Homo sapiens: one gene and its partners. The protein of the gene in region 4 purifies or fractionates together with the protein of the main gene of each other region. This does not show direct contact. Each region holds a gene or a part of one and is shown on either strand. Other genes may lie near its edges.

The links. The genes of interacting proteins can lie anywhere in the genome.
Region 1: the proteins of AIF1 (region 4) and WDR33 purify together in Homo sapiens (affinity purification with mass spectrometry; one large-scale study listed by BioGRID and IntAct). This does not show direct contact.
Region 2: the proteins of AIF1 (region 4) and RRP36 purify together in Homo sapiens (affinity purification with mass spectrometry; one large-scale study listed by BioGRID and IntAct). This does not show direct contact.
Region 3: the proteins of AIF1 (region 4) and USP36 purify together in Homo sapiens (affinity purification with mass spectrometry; one large-scale study listed by BioGRID and IntAct). This does not show direct contact.

Annotation. Positions count from the first base shown.
Region 1 is NC_000002.12:127,717,172-127,720,671, reverse strand, and holds part of WDR33 (pre-mRNA 3' end processing protein WDR33), read left to right. Parts: intron 1-318; coding exon 319-1,407; intron 1,408-3,408; coding exon 3,409-3,500. UniProt on the Homo sapiens protein: Essential for both cleavage and polyadenylation of pre-mRNA 3' ends.
Region 2 is NC_000006.12:43,027,361-43,030,099, forward strand, and holds the end of RRP36 (ribosomal RNA processing protein 36 homolog), read left to right. Parts: coding exon 1-117; intron 118-1,731; coding exon 1,732-1,868; 3' UTR 1,869-2,239; downstream 2,240-2,739. UniProt on the Homo sapiens protein: Involved in the early processing steps of the pre-rRNA in the maturation pathway leading to the 18S rRNA.
Region 3 is NC_000017.11:78,806,315-78,809,814, reverse strand, and holds part of USP36 (ubiquitin carboxyl-terminal hydrolase 36), read left to right. Parts: intron 1-2,178; coding exon 2,179-2,856; intron 2,857-3,494; coding exon of another isoform or gene 3,495-3,500. UniProt on the Homo sapiens protein: Deubiquitinase essential for the regulation of nucleolar structure and function. Required for cell and organism viability.
Region 4 is NC_000006.12:31,613,927-31,617,515, forward strand, and holds AIF1 (allograft inflammatory factor 1), read left to right. Parts: upstream 1-1,307; 5' UTR 1,308-1,403; coding exon 1,404-1,428; intron 1,429-1,594; coding exon 1,595-1,656; intron 1,657-1,743; coding exon 1,744-1,810; intron 1,811-2,064; exon of another isoform or gene 2,065-2,177; coding exon 2,178-2,219; coding exon of another isoform or gene 2,220-2,417; coding exon 2,418-2,580; coding exon of another isoform or gene 2,581-2,584; intron 2,585-2,889; coding exon 2,890-2,974; 3' UTR 2,975-3,089; downstream 3,090-3,589. UniProt on the Homo sapiens protein: Actin-binding protein that enhances membrane ruffling and RAC activation. Enhances the actin-bundling activity of LCP1. Binds calcium. Plays a role in RAC signaling and in phagocytosis. May play a role in macrophage activation and function.

The sequences.
Region 1 (3,500 bases), on a different chromosome or scaffold from region 4:
GATCACTTGAGCCCAGGAGGGTGAGGCTGTAGTGAACCACGATCGTACCACTGCATTCCAGCTTGGGGGACAGAAAAAAAAAATAAGGAAAAAAAAATCCTTACTACTGTGTCCCAGGACTTAAAAAGAATGAGAAAGAACCTAAAACTCCTTACAGTGCTTGAGTGTTGCATGGACTCTAATTACCACTGGAGCGTGAAGAGTTTGAGCAGTTTTTATGTTTGAGAGTCCCCTAACAGAATACATGATAGCAATATTGTCATCTTCAAGGGCTCTGGCCTGTTTATTCAACATGCTTTTTTCTTTCTTTCTTTCCAGCAACTTAAAATTGAAAGACTTGCACAGAAACAAGTTGAGCAAATTCAGCCTCCTCCCTCATCTGGCACCCCTCTCCTCGGACCCCAGCCTTTTCCAGGACAAGGTCCAATGTCTCAGATTCCTCAAGGTTTTCAACAGCCCCATCCATCTCAGCAGATGCCAATGAACATGGCTCAAATGGGGCCTCCAGGTCCACAGGGACAGTTTAGGCCTCCTGGACCCCAGGGACAAATGGGACCACAAGGTCCTCCACTGCATCAGGGAGGTGGGGGGCCACAAGGATTCATGGGACCACAGGGGCCCCAGGGCCCGCCCCAGGGGTTGCCACGGCCTCAGGACATGCATGGGCCCCAAGGAATGCAGAGGCATCCTGGACCTCATGGCCCTTTGGGACCTCAAGGGCCACCTGGACCACAAGGTAGTTCTGGTCCTCAAGGTCATATGGGTCCTCAGGGTCCACCTGGCCCACAGGGTCACATAGGCCCCCAAGGCCCGCCTGGCCCTCAGGGTCACTTGGGCCCACAGGGGCCTCCGGGTACTCAAGGTATGCAGGGACCACCTGGTCCCAGAGGAATGCAAGGGCCTCCTCATCCTCATGGGATCCAAGGCGGACCAGGGTCTCAAGGGATCCAAGGTCCTGTGTCTCAGGGACCTCTGATGGGATTGAATCCAAGAGGAATGCAGGGGCCTCCAGGCCCCCGGGAGAACCAGGGTCCTGCTCCCCAAGGGATGATTATGGGCCACCCGCCTCAAGAGATGAGAGGACCTCACCCTCCAGGTGGACTACTGGGACACGGCCCTCAGGAAATGAGAGGTCCTCAGGAGATCCGAGGCATGCAGGGGCCTCCACCCCAAGGATCAATGCTGGGACCTCCCCAGGAATTGCGAGGGCCTCCAGGCTCACAAAGTCAGCAGGGGCCGCCCCAGGGCTCTTTAGGACCTCCACCCCAGGGTGGCATGCAAGGACCCCCCGGACCTCAGGGACAGCAGAACCCAGCAAGAGGGCCACATCCATCTCAAGGGCCAATACCATTCCAGCAACAGAAAACGCCTCTGCTAGGTGATGGGCCCCGGGCCCCCTTCAACCAGGTATTATTCATTTCCAACTCACGGGCACATTGGGAAAATACACTCTGCACAGAAGTAATACTGCTGAGTATTGTGGAAAATGGTCACAGCTGGATATAAATACTTATCAAGTAGTGACAGTAGCTTAAGATACTAGCATCCTGGCTGAAGAATGAAATCATAAGAATGATGAGTTAGGTTATACTCCCATTAAGTACATCTCAGTATTCATTTTTACTTCTCACCATTTTTCTTTTTTTGGTAATAGAGTTTCTTCAGAAAAGGTCAACTCTCATTTGAGTACAGCTGATAATTGTCCCAGGGCTCCAGGAGAGCTGTGGCCCTGAGGAGGAAGCATGTTTTACATGGTGGTCGGCTCTGAGGCTGTCATGCCTCCTTTCTGGGCCCTTTACATTGCAGCCTGGTGTTCCATGGGCCTGCCAGCCACAGAATCACTTCCTGTCTGCCAACTCTACTTTTAAAAGATAGGATGGGATATTTAACTCATGAGTATACTATAGACTCTGTACCTCACTCTGTTTATTACAGTGAATAGAAATAAAGAGACTGTTATTCCAGAATTGAGCATTCTGGAAATGGTGACCCTTTGGATGAAACTCTGCTCAAGTTGTTTTCAGCTCACATATAAAAGTATTTGCAGGGGGGAGCATTTCTGTAGAAATTCTCCTTCTTTGAGGATTCTGTTTTTGTTAGCCAATTTTTATTGCTCATGCGCTGAGCTCGTGCTTGAGAGATGGTGTGAGGAAAGTTCAGGTTGCTTGGGGGAGTGAATTACGAAAAGAATTGCATGAGCATAAATAGATGTAATACTGCTCAGCTATGTGCATTTTATGCTTTTCTCAAGTTCTTAGTCTGGAGGCATTATTTGGGTATGAATAACTGAGTTTTGTCCCTGAAAACTCACTTTTGGTCCAGTGTGGACCAAAAGTGAGCGAGTCAGCTAATGTTGACTCCCTGAGACACTTGGAGAAAGGGGATGCTACAGATGTAGAAAGCACAGTCTGTTTTGGTTTTTCAAATACCACCACGAATCCCTAATGTAAAGATGACCATTGGGTTTCCTGAACTCAACTACTAAGCTAAAACAAATAAATTATCTACTATTCTAAAGTAGGTCTTCCAGAACCTAAAAGTGTCGTAGTCATGGAGAATCTGATGATGTCTGAGTTATTTCCAGATTTTTATTCAGCACTTCTCAGAAGTTAGGATGAATTAAGTATAGGATTGCCATTCTAAATTGCCCTAAAACTTGAAGTATTATATATTTTATTAATTTACTGCTCAGTTGTATGTGTGTATAATATTATTTATTGTAAGTTATTTTCCTAACTTTCTGGTAGTAAATTAACAGTTTTCATTTTGGAGGATTAAAAAAATAATGGACTTTAGCTACTGTGTTATAACTGAAATATTTATAAACATGTCAGAGTCACAAGGACATGCCTGAGTTTCTGGGATAATTCAATGAGATTTTTTATTGTACCATGTAGTAAAAGATTTTATACATGGGAAGCATGATTCTGAAATTTTAATTGACCTATAGAAATACTGGTAGAATGAGTCTGAAGATCTGATACTTTGTAGGGCATTTCAGATCTCAGAAGTTGCCTGATGAAAATCTGTGCTCTTATTTCTCATATGCTGAAATCTAAGTTGCTTCACTTTAACCAGACCAGTTACTTAAACCAGTTGTTTTAATTGGTTTAATTTAGTGCTGCTGTGTTAGAATTTCTGACTTTCCATTGATGTTCTTTTTTGGCATTACGAGTAAAGATCTAATTTTACATAAAAGTTGTCAACAGGTTTAAAATACAGGTGCTTTAAAAAAATTATTATAGTAAAAGAAGTATCTCCTTTCTCCTGATTTAAGGACAATGTTACTGTAATCTTACTAGGTAAATATTTACTGGGTATTTTTATCTTGTCATGTTATAATGCAATCACTATTTATGTAGCTCAAGCCTGTGATTTCATACCCTTACTTTAAAAACATATTTTCAGGAAGGACAGAGCACAGGCCCCCCACCCCTGATACCAGGCCTAGGGCAGCAGGGAGCACAAGGTCGCATTCCCCCTCTGAACCCCGGACAAGG
Region 2 (2,739 bases), about 11 Mb from region 4:
AGCAGCAAGAAATGGCACAGCAGGAACGAAAGCAACAGCAGGAGCTGCACCTGGCCCTGAAGCAAGAACGTCGGGCTCAGGCCCAGCAGGGCCATCGGCCATACTTCCTGAAAAAATGTGAGTTGGGCACAACTGTTGCTAACAGGGACAGGGGTGCAGGGGCCATGGTGGTAGAGTCTTGTGTTGGGGTGTCCCTGATCCCCTTTAAGGAAGGCATGAAGGCTGGATCCCATGGTAACTTGGAGGAAAGTAGAAATAGTAGGGAGTTGTTTGTAACCAGTCTTGTATCCCTAATTAGATCATGGCAGGCATTGTCACCTTTATTTCTTGGTCTACACTCCCCACTTCCCAACCCCCCCCCCCCAACACACACACAGTGAGTTTTATCTCTTGGTCTACACTACACACACACACACACACACACACACACACACACACAAACACAGAGTCAGTTTTATCTCTTGGTCTACACACACACACACACACAATCAGTTTTATCTCTTGGTCTATACTACACACACACACAGAGTTTTATCTCTTGGTCTACACACACACACACACAATCAGTTTTGTTTCTTGGTCTACACTGCACACACACACATGCACACACGCTGGGCCAGGCACATAGGTGTTCATAGTTGGTTGAATTGAGTAGTACTGAGATCATATAAAAAGTCATCAGTTGGGCTGGGCACGGTGGCTCACGCCTATAATCCCAGCACTATGGGAGGCCAGTGTGGGGGGGTCACGAGGTCAGGAGTTCGAGACCAGCCTGGGGGCCAACATGGTGAAACCCTGTCTCTACTAAAGATATAAAAAAATTAGCCGGGCCTGGTGGCGTGCACCTGTAATCCAGCTACTCAGGAGGCTGAGGCAGGAGGATCACTTGAGCCCGGGAGGTGGAGGTTGCAGAAAGCCTAGATTGCACTGTTGTACTCCAGCCTGGGCAACAGCGTGAGACTCCATCTCACAGGAAAAACAAACAAACAAAAAAAAGTCACCAGTTGGGCCGGGCGCAGTGCCTCACACCTGTAATCCCAGCACTTTGGGAGGCCAAGGAGGGCAGATCACGAGGTCAGGAGTTCAAGACCAGCCTGGCAAACATGGTGAAACCCCGTCTCTACTAAAAATACAAAAATTAGCTGGGTGTGGTGCTGTGCATCTGTAATCCCAGCTACTCAGAAGGCTGAGGCAGGAGAATCGCTTGAATCTGGGAGGCGGAGGTTGCAGTGAGCTGAAATCGTGCCACAGCACTTCAGCCTGGGTGACAGAGTGAGACTCCATCTCAAAAAAAAAAAGTCACCCGTTGGCCAGGCGCAGTGGCTCACGCCTGTAATCCCAGCACTTTGGGAGGCTGAGGAGAGCGGATCACCTGAGGTCAGGAGTTCGAGACCAGCCTGGCCAACATGGCGTAACCCTGTTTCTACTAAAAATACAAAAAAATTAGCCATATGTGGTGGTGCGCGCCTGTAATCCCAGCTACTCCGGAGGCTGAGGCAGGAGAATCACTTGAATCTAGAAGACGGAGGTTGCAGTGAGCCGAGATCGCGTCACTGCACTCCAGCCTGGGTAACAGAGCAGGACTCCGTCTCAGAAAAAAGATAGAGGGGCACCAGTGAGCTTTAAAGAACTCATGTATCCAGCATAATGGCTTGGAGTTACTGACCTGGTTTGGGAAAGAATAGGGGCTTCCTTCTTTGTTCACCAACTTTCATTCTCCCTGTCATTTAGCTGAGCAGCGCCAGTTGGCACTAGCTGAGAAGTTCAAGGAGCTGAAACGCAGCAAGAAATTGGAGAACTTCTTGAGTCGAAAGAGGCGACGAAATGCAGGCAAGGACAGGAGACATCTCCCTTTGAGCAAAGAGTAATAAGGAACTATCCTCTGCTCTGCCACTGCCCCAGGGAGACATGGATCTGTGAGGACAGATTTGGCCACGGCTGGTTTCCGTTCAAGGGCAAGGATCACAGCTGCCCTTGAATCTCATTGCCTCAGAGAAGACTAGAGGGCTCTTGGACTATCCCTAGGGCTACACAAGAATAGTTCAGCCTTCTGCCATGCCACACAGCCTCAGCTTGAATCTGGTTCATTGCGTCCTCGTGTTCTTCTCTCATCCTTGCCTTAAACCAGGGATTCTGATACCGAAGAAGAGGGGCCAATGAAAACCATGGAGTCTGTTCGTGACTCCCAGGGCTGGGACATTATGTAGGAGCCACTTCATAAACATTCTCTTTACTCATCTTTTTATTCTGTTTTTTGTGGCCTTCTTTTTGTGTTTCCCCCCCGAAACAGAGTCTCGCTCTGTCACCCAGGCTAGAGTACAGTGGTGCAATCTCGCCTCACTGCAACCTCCACCTCCCAGGTTCAAGTGATTCTTGTGCCTCAGCCTCCCGAGTAGCTGACATCCGCCACCAAGCCCAGCTAATTTCTTTCGTATTTTTAGTAGAGATAGAGTTTTGCCATGTTGGCTAGTTTGATCTTAAACTCTTGGCCTCAAGTGATCTGCCTGCCTCAGACTCCCAAAGTGCTGGGATTACAGGCGTTGAGCCACCGTTCCGGCCTTAAGGCCTCTGCTTTTATGTGGGATTTGTGGGTAGCCTAGAACTACTTTTTAGTGGGCCACATATTGGGATAGGCAATAAAGCCTAAGGCATCTACAACTGGGAAGTCAGATCAGAAACCCCTCCCACTTAAATCTGGGCCCCTCAAGGATGACAAGATCATTTAGTGGGTGAACCAAT
Region 3 (3,500 bases), on a different chromosome or scaffold from region 4:
CCCATCTCCAAAAAAAGTGCAAAAATTAGCCAGGTGTGGTGGTGCACGTCTGTTGTCCCAGCTGTTTGGAGGTTGAGGCAGGAGGATCACTTAAACACAAGGCTGCATTGAGCTATCATTGTGCCACTGCGCTCCAGCCTGGACAACAGAATGAGACCCTGTCTCAAAAAACCCCAGAAAAACAAAGGAAGCCCCACTTGCCACAGGAACTCCATGGGCAGAGTGATGCCCGAGGGTGGAGATTGGCTCAAGGAGAGTCCCTGTGTCAGGCACACCTGCAGGGGCGCTTCACTGACCATGAGCATTTTCATTACAAACGTGATTTTCCAAATACACTGCAAGCAGACGAGCCGTTTTACTCTAAATGACATGGTGCAAGTTCTAGTGTGTATGGAAATGTTCAGCCAGTGAAACGGCTTTGCGGTGCAGTGGAAAGATGAATTCCTTTTAGAAAACAGTATTAACAAAGAATAGAATGTAGGGAACAAAACAAAACTTGGAAGAAAATAGAGGTAAATTCTTAACCTCTGGGAAGGGAAGAAGACTTTGTATGCTTAAAGTTGAAGGATAAAATGTAGAAGAATTATGAATTGACTAAGATTTACATTTTTGTACATAATTTACTACAAACAAATGAAGCAATAAAACCTTGTAAAATATTGTCAACAAAAGGTTAACATTTGTAAACAAAAGATCTCATTCAAATGAAGATCACTTTAGTGCATGTGCAGAGAATATGAATGTTAAAGTGGTAATAGCCCAAACGAGTGTCAAATTAGCAAATGTTTTGAAAAATAGATGTGGCTGGAGTATAGTAAAAGCAGTTTGGCATTTTGCATCAGATTTCATGAAAATGAAATCTGTAATTTCATTTCCAGAAAATTAGCCTTGTAATTCCATTTCCAGAAAATTAGCATGGAGTACTAAGTACAGGAAAAGCTCAACAAATATTTTTTAAGCACCGACTCTATACCAGACCCTTGAGTTGCTGGTGAGGGCTGCAGTGGGAACGAGAGAGATAACGGGTACAGCCTCTTGGTCAAGCAGGGGAAGGCTGACATTCAGCATCTAAATACAGAATAATAAGTTATTTCTATGCAGTTGTAATAAGTGCTCTGAAGGGTAAAGGATACACACACATATACTGTACAGTATTTTTAATTTCAACAGTTGGAGACAATATAGCTTATATAAATTAACCATACAGTTAATGTGTATCAGTAGTACATAGTATATATAGTAAAATGTCAAAGACAGGCCGACAGGCAGGGTGCAGTTGCTCAGGCCTGTAATCCCAGCACTTTGAGAGGCCAGGGTGGGAGGATTGCTTGAGCTCAGGAATTCAAGGCTAGCCGGGGCAACATAGCAAGATCCCCATCTCTACAAAATAGTAATAATTATTCGGGTGTGGTGGTCTACTCCTATAGTCCTAGCCAGTTGGGCAGCTGAAGTGGGAGGATCTCTTGAGCCCAGAAGGTTGAGGCTGCAGTGAGTTATGATGACATCATCATGCCACTGCACTCCAGCCTGGGCAACAGAGCAAGGCTCTGTCTTAAAGATATTTATTGAGAGTTATCGCCCATAAAAATGCTTGAGATAATAGCTTTAAGATAAAACTGGGATGCAACTCTTCAGGCCAGAACCATTTGGAAGAAAAGATTGAAAAAAGAAAGCACTAGAATGTTAATGCATGGTTATGTTTAGGTGATGGAACTTTGCTAAATTTCTTCCTTTATACTTTTTTCTCTTCCCAAATCTTGATGAAAATGTACTGGTTTTATAGTAAAGGTGGCCATAAAGATATGTATTCAGGCCAGGTGCTATGGCTCACACCTGTAATCCCAACACTTCTGGAGGCTGAGGCAGGTGGACTGCTCGAGGCCAGAAGTTTGAGACCAGCCTGGCCAACATGGTGAAACCCCATCTCTGTCAAAAATACAGAAATTAGCCAGGTGTGGTGGTACACGGCTGTGGTCCCTGTTCTTGGGATGTCACAGAACACCAGAATTGTTCAGAGAAGCCACAGTGTCTTTACCAAGAGTCCAGATAAATAATTTATCTTGAGCATGCTAATCAGAGGCCATGCCTGCTACTAAGATTCACTGTGGCCTTAAGAAGATGTGGCCCAGCTGAGACTTCTCGCTTCCTCAGTTGTGTTTTCTGCTTTGGTCTCCTTAGCGACAAGACTCTGGGACGATGAAGAAGCCGCACACCACTGAAGAGATTGGTGTGCCCATATCCAGGAATGGCTCCACCCTGGGCCTGAAGTCCCAGAACGGCTGCATTCCTCCAAAGCTGCCCTCGGGGTCCCCTTCCCCCAAACTCTCCCAGACACCCACACACATGCCAACCATCCTAGACGACCCTGGAAAGAAGGTGAAGAAGCCAGCTCCTCCACAGCACTTTTCCCCCAGAACTGCTCAGGGGCTGCCTGGGACCAGCAACTCGAATAGCAGCAGATCTGGGAGCCAAAGGCAGGGCTCCTGGGACAGCAGGGATGTTGTCCTCTCTACCTCACCTAAGCTCCTGGCTACAGCCACTGCCAACGGGCATGGGCTGAAGGGGAACGACGAGAGCGCTGGCCTCGACAGGAGGGGCTCCAGCAGCTCCAGCCCAGAGCACTCGGCCAGCAGCGACTCCACCAAGGCCCCCCAGACCCCCAGGAGTGGAGCGGCCCATCTCTGCGATTCTCAGGAAACGAACTGTTCCACCGCTGGCCACTCCAAAACGCCGCCAAGTGGAGCAGATTCTAAGACGGTGAAGCTGAAGTCCCCTGTCCTGAGCAACACCACCACTGAGCCTGCAAGCACCATGTCTCCTCCACCAGCCAAAAAACTGGCCCTTTCTGCCAAGAAGGTGGGTGTGTGGGGGTCTCGCCGCTGCTGTGTATCAGGAGAGCTCCAAGAGTTGCTTGGTTGTGGTTTGAAGGGAGTGAGAACATTGTCCGGGGGCTTTGGCCTCCCTCATGTTAGAGGAACAAAGTGTCTTTTAGTCGTTCCCAGCCATTTGCAATTAAAGAACGGCTATCTTGGGGTGAAGGCAGTATGGGGTGTTGAGAGAGCCCTGATCTGGTGATGCTCATGTGACTCATGGAGGTTTGGGCAAGGTAGCAGTTCCCTGTTTTCACAGTAGGTGGAAGATCCTGACTGAACCCGAGGGAGGGTGGGCCCCACCAGCACGTGTCCCTAGCAGGGGTGGGGCGGGCAGGAAGCGCAGAGCCCCAGTGGGGTGCCCGGCACCTCTGCAGCAGGAAGCTTGGGCAGCCACGGCACGTGGATGTGATTGTTGTGCTGAGATTTTTGTTTAAATTTTCTTCCTTTTTTTTGTTTCTAACCAAAAATACTTTTCTGGTTCTTCTTCTACCATTCCCCTGCCCCTCACCTCCCCTTTTTGTCTTCTTCTGTCTCCTCATCTTTTTTTCTGGGCTCTTTTGTTTTTATTTTCATTTTTTGTTACTTTTGTTTTCCCTCTTCACTCACGGAAACCTTTTTTAGACCACC
Region 4 (3,589 bases):
CATCCTGGCCAACATGGCGAAACCCCATCTGTACTAAAAATACAAAAATTAGCTGGGCGTGGTGGTGGGCGCCTGTAGTCCCAGCTACTCAGGAGGCTGAGGTAGGAGAATTGCTTGAACCCAGGAGGCAGTGGTTGCAGTGAGCCGAGATTGCACCATTGCACTCCCGCCTGGGCGACAGAGCAAGACTCCGACTCAAAAAAAAAAAAAAAAGCAGCAGCAGCAGCCAGAGGCCACTCCAGCATCTCCCCTACCTGGCTTGGGTCAGGGAGAGGGCAGTGAGAAGTGAAAACTCCCAGCTACAGAAAAGGAAATATGTTGGGGGGAAGGGAGAAGGAAAGGTGTCTTCATCAATGCCGGGGCAGGGTAGATGGAGCCCTGGGCAGGGAGTTTGGACCAGGAAATCTCAATGAGGGAAATGTGCTGTCCTCACCTCTCCAAGAAGCGACTGGCCAAACAGAGTGACAGAGGGGATAAAGGTTATGCCTAGGGAGGCATGTGTCAGAGGCTATCATCCACTCTGTTGAACCCACAGTGACCAGCACCACCATCACACAAACATGCCTGCATGTGTGCACGCACGTGCAGTGTGCAAACCTGATGTCAGCCTCACTCCCTGGCTCTTCTGTCCACAAACGCTGTTTCTTTAAGTACCACTTTCAGTTCCTCCAAAGAATCTACTTAAACTCTTAAATTCCTGATCTCTATAGATTTTACTAAAGATTTCAAAGGAGATAAGATGAGAGGGTTACGTTGCACATTCTAAAGCAAACAAATTAAAATGTTTTGTTAGACATTTCCATATTTTTAAGGGCCTCCTTGGAGCTGCCAGGCTGGGAGTGAGGTTTCTCTCCCTTTCTAAACCCTGTGCCCATCTTGTCACCCTCCTGGAGCTGCCAGCAGACTTCAGATTCTTCTCCGATCTACAGAGCAGAAAAATTCAGCCAGCCCTTCCTTGTCTTCCTATCCACAGCTGCCTGCCCAGACTCATGAAACCTGACAAAATGCAAGGTCTTATCATTACCTGAACCTTGGACCTGTTCAAAAATACTAGTTCCTGAGAATAAATATCCCTGGTGTCTTCCTGCCCTTCCTGCACACCTCCAGTGGCTTATCAAAATATTTGTTTCATGCGCACACTGGGCTCTCATTTAAGAGGAATTTGGGAGAATGTTATTTTCTAATCTGCATTTCACACCAGGCTCCCCCTCCTTCCTGGGGTGCTAGTGTCAGCAGAACCTGATGGGGAAGTGAGGTCTGGGAGGCAGAGGAGGAAGGAATGAGGGGAAAGGGGAAGTTTGGGAGGAAGGCTTCTGAGAAGACTGGTGGGAGAGAAGGAGAGCCTGCAGACAGAGGCCTCCAGCTTGGTCTGTCTCCCCACCTCTACCAGCATCTGCTGAGCTATGAGCCAAACCAGGGATTTACAGGGTAGGGAGGGTGGGATAGGCAGCGGCATTAGATCGGAGGAATGAGATGGACAGACCTGGGCTGTGGGCTAGGAGGGCAGTCAGCTGGCCTAGGGTAGCCCGGGCTGGTGTCAGGGTAAGGAGAGGAAGGGAGGGATGAGGGCTGATTAATTTTTTTCACCCCACAGGAGGAAAAGCTTTCGGACTGCTGAAGGCCCAGCAGGAAGAGAGGCTGGATGAGATCAACAAGGTAGAAGGAAGAACTAAGGGGGCAGAGCCAGGGGGATGGGGCGTGGATGGGGAGGGCCTACCCTGGCTCTTATTTTCCCCTCCATAGCAATTCCTAGACGATCCCAAATATAGCAGTGATGAGGATCTGCCCTCCAAACTGGAAGGCTTCAAAGGTGAGGGGGAAACTGTAGGCGGTGGAGACAGGGCTGGGGGTAGGAGGGTTAGGATTTCCACAAGAACAAGGCAGGAACAGCAGAGATAAAAAGTTTACTTTTGTGGTAGCAAAAGGGGAACCTGCCTTTATTGCCCTCCTGCCACACTGCGGTCCCTTTCCCGGGCCTGCCTCTCTCAGCATCCCCTCTAGCTCCTTACACCCTAGCGGGGCCCCTCAACTCCCCAACCCCACTTCCTCTGCCTGCCCCTCCTCCTCCTTCCACGTTGTCTCCTCCACCTAGCAGTTGGTTGGCAACCCCTTCCTCAGTCCCCTGCTGAAAACCCTCCAGTCAGCGCTTATCCCTTCTGCTCTCTCCCCTCACCCAGAGAAATACATGGAGTTTGACCTTAATGGAAATGGCGATATTGGTGAGAAACGGGTGATTTGCGGGGGCAGGGTGGTGTGCAGGCCTAAGAAGACAGAGGTCTCTCCTACATGCTCCATTCCTCATGATTTGGGAGGGGGCCCACCTACCACAGTGGGAGGAAGGAGAATGGGGATGCGGAAGTGGGAGAGGAGAGAGAGGGTCTCCCCACCTTCTCCCCATCCCCATCCTCTGCCCCCAGATATCATGTCCCTGAAACGAATGCTGGAGAAACTTGGAGTCCCCAAGACTCACCTAGAGCTAAAGAAATTAATTGGAGAGGTGTCCAGTGGCTCCGGGGAGACGTTCAGCTACCCTGACTTTCTCAGGATGATGCTGGGCAAGAGATCTGCCATCCTAAAAATGTGAGTGTCAATTTCCAACCTCCCCTGTACTTACCTGTTTTCTCCTCCCCCATCCCTACCCTTGTCCACAGGCTCAACATTTCTACACGTTGCCCATCATCCCTTCTTCCATCCTTAGAGGGACCCTTCCAAGGTCCCGACCCCATCCCTATCCATAGTCCTGGTCCCCAGAAACTCCAACCCCTGCCCTTCCTCTTCCCCCTTCCACCCTCACATCCCCATCCCCTTCTAGCCTTTCCTAGCACCCTATGATTTATTCCCTTGAGAGGAGTGTTCCCTGATCCCTGTGCCTCTTCCCATCTCAACCAGGATCCTGATGTATGAGGAAAAAGCGAGAGAAAAGGAAAAGCCAACAGGCCCCCCAGCCAAGAAAGCTATCTCTGAGTTGCCCTGATTTGAAGGGAAAAGGGATGATGGGATTGAAGGGGCTTCTAATGACCCAGATATGGAAACAGAAGACAAAATTGTAAGCCAGAGTCAACAAATTAAATAAATTACCCCCTCCTCCAGATCAAGTCAGCTTAGTTTTTATTTGGGTGATTTTTTTCCTGGGTTTGGGAAGGAGAGACAGGTCTTGAGGGAAAGGTGGCAAGGATTTGGCCATATGAACAATCCATCAACAACGCTATAGTGTGTCCACTACAGCAGATGGTTTCACGCACCAAGGGGGATTCCAGCTGTGTAAGACAGCCTTAACCTCAAAGAATGCAGGCAGGTCAAAAACACATGTCCAAACAAGGTACTCAGGCCCATGACAGATTTCATGAAGAGCAAGGAATACCATGAACCAACATTCTCCACCACTATAAGCTTTGTCACTTTGACAAATCACTCAGCCTCTGTGAGGCTTTTTTCTAAAAATGGGGATAAAGTGACCTATGCTATTGTGCCTGACATATCATAAGCCCTCAATAATGTTTAAAACTTGAATGAGCCGGGGCCGATGGCTTATGCCTGTAATCCCAGCACTTTGGGAGGATGGGGTGGGCAGATCACCTGAGGTCAGGAG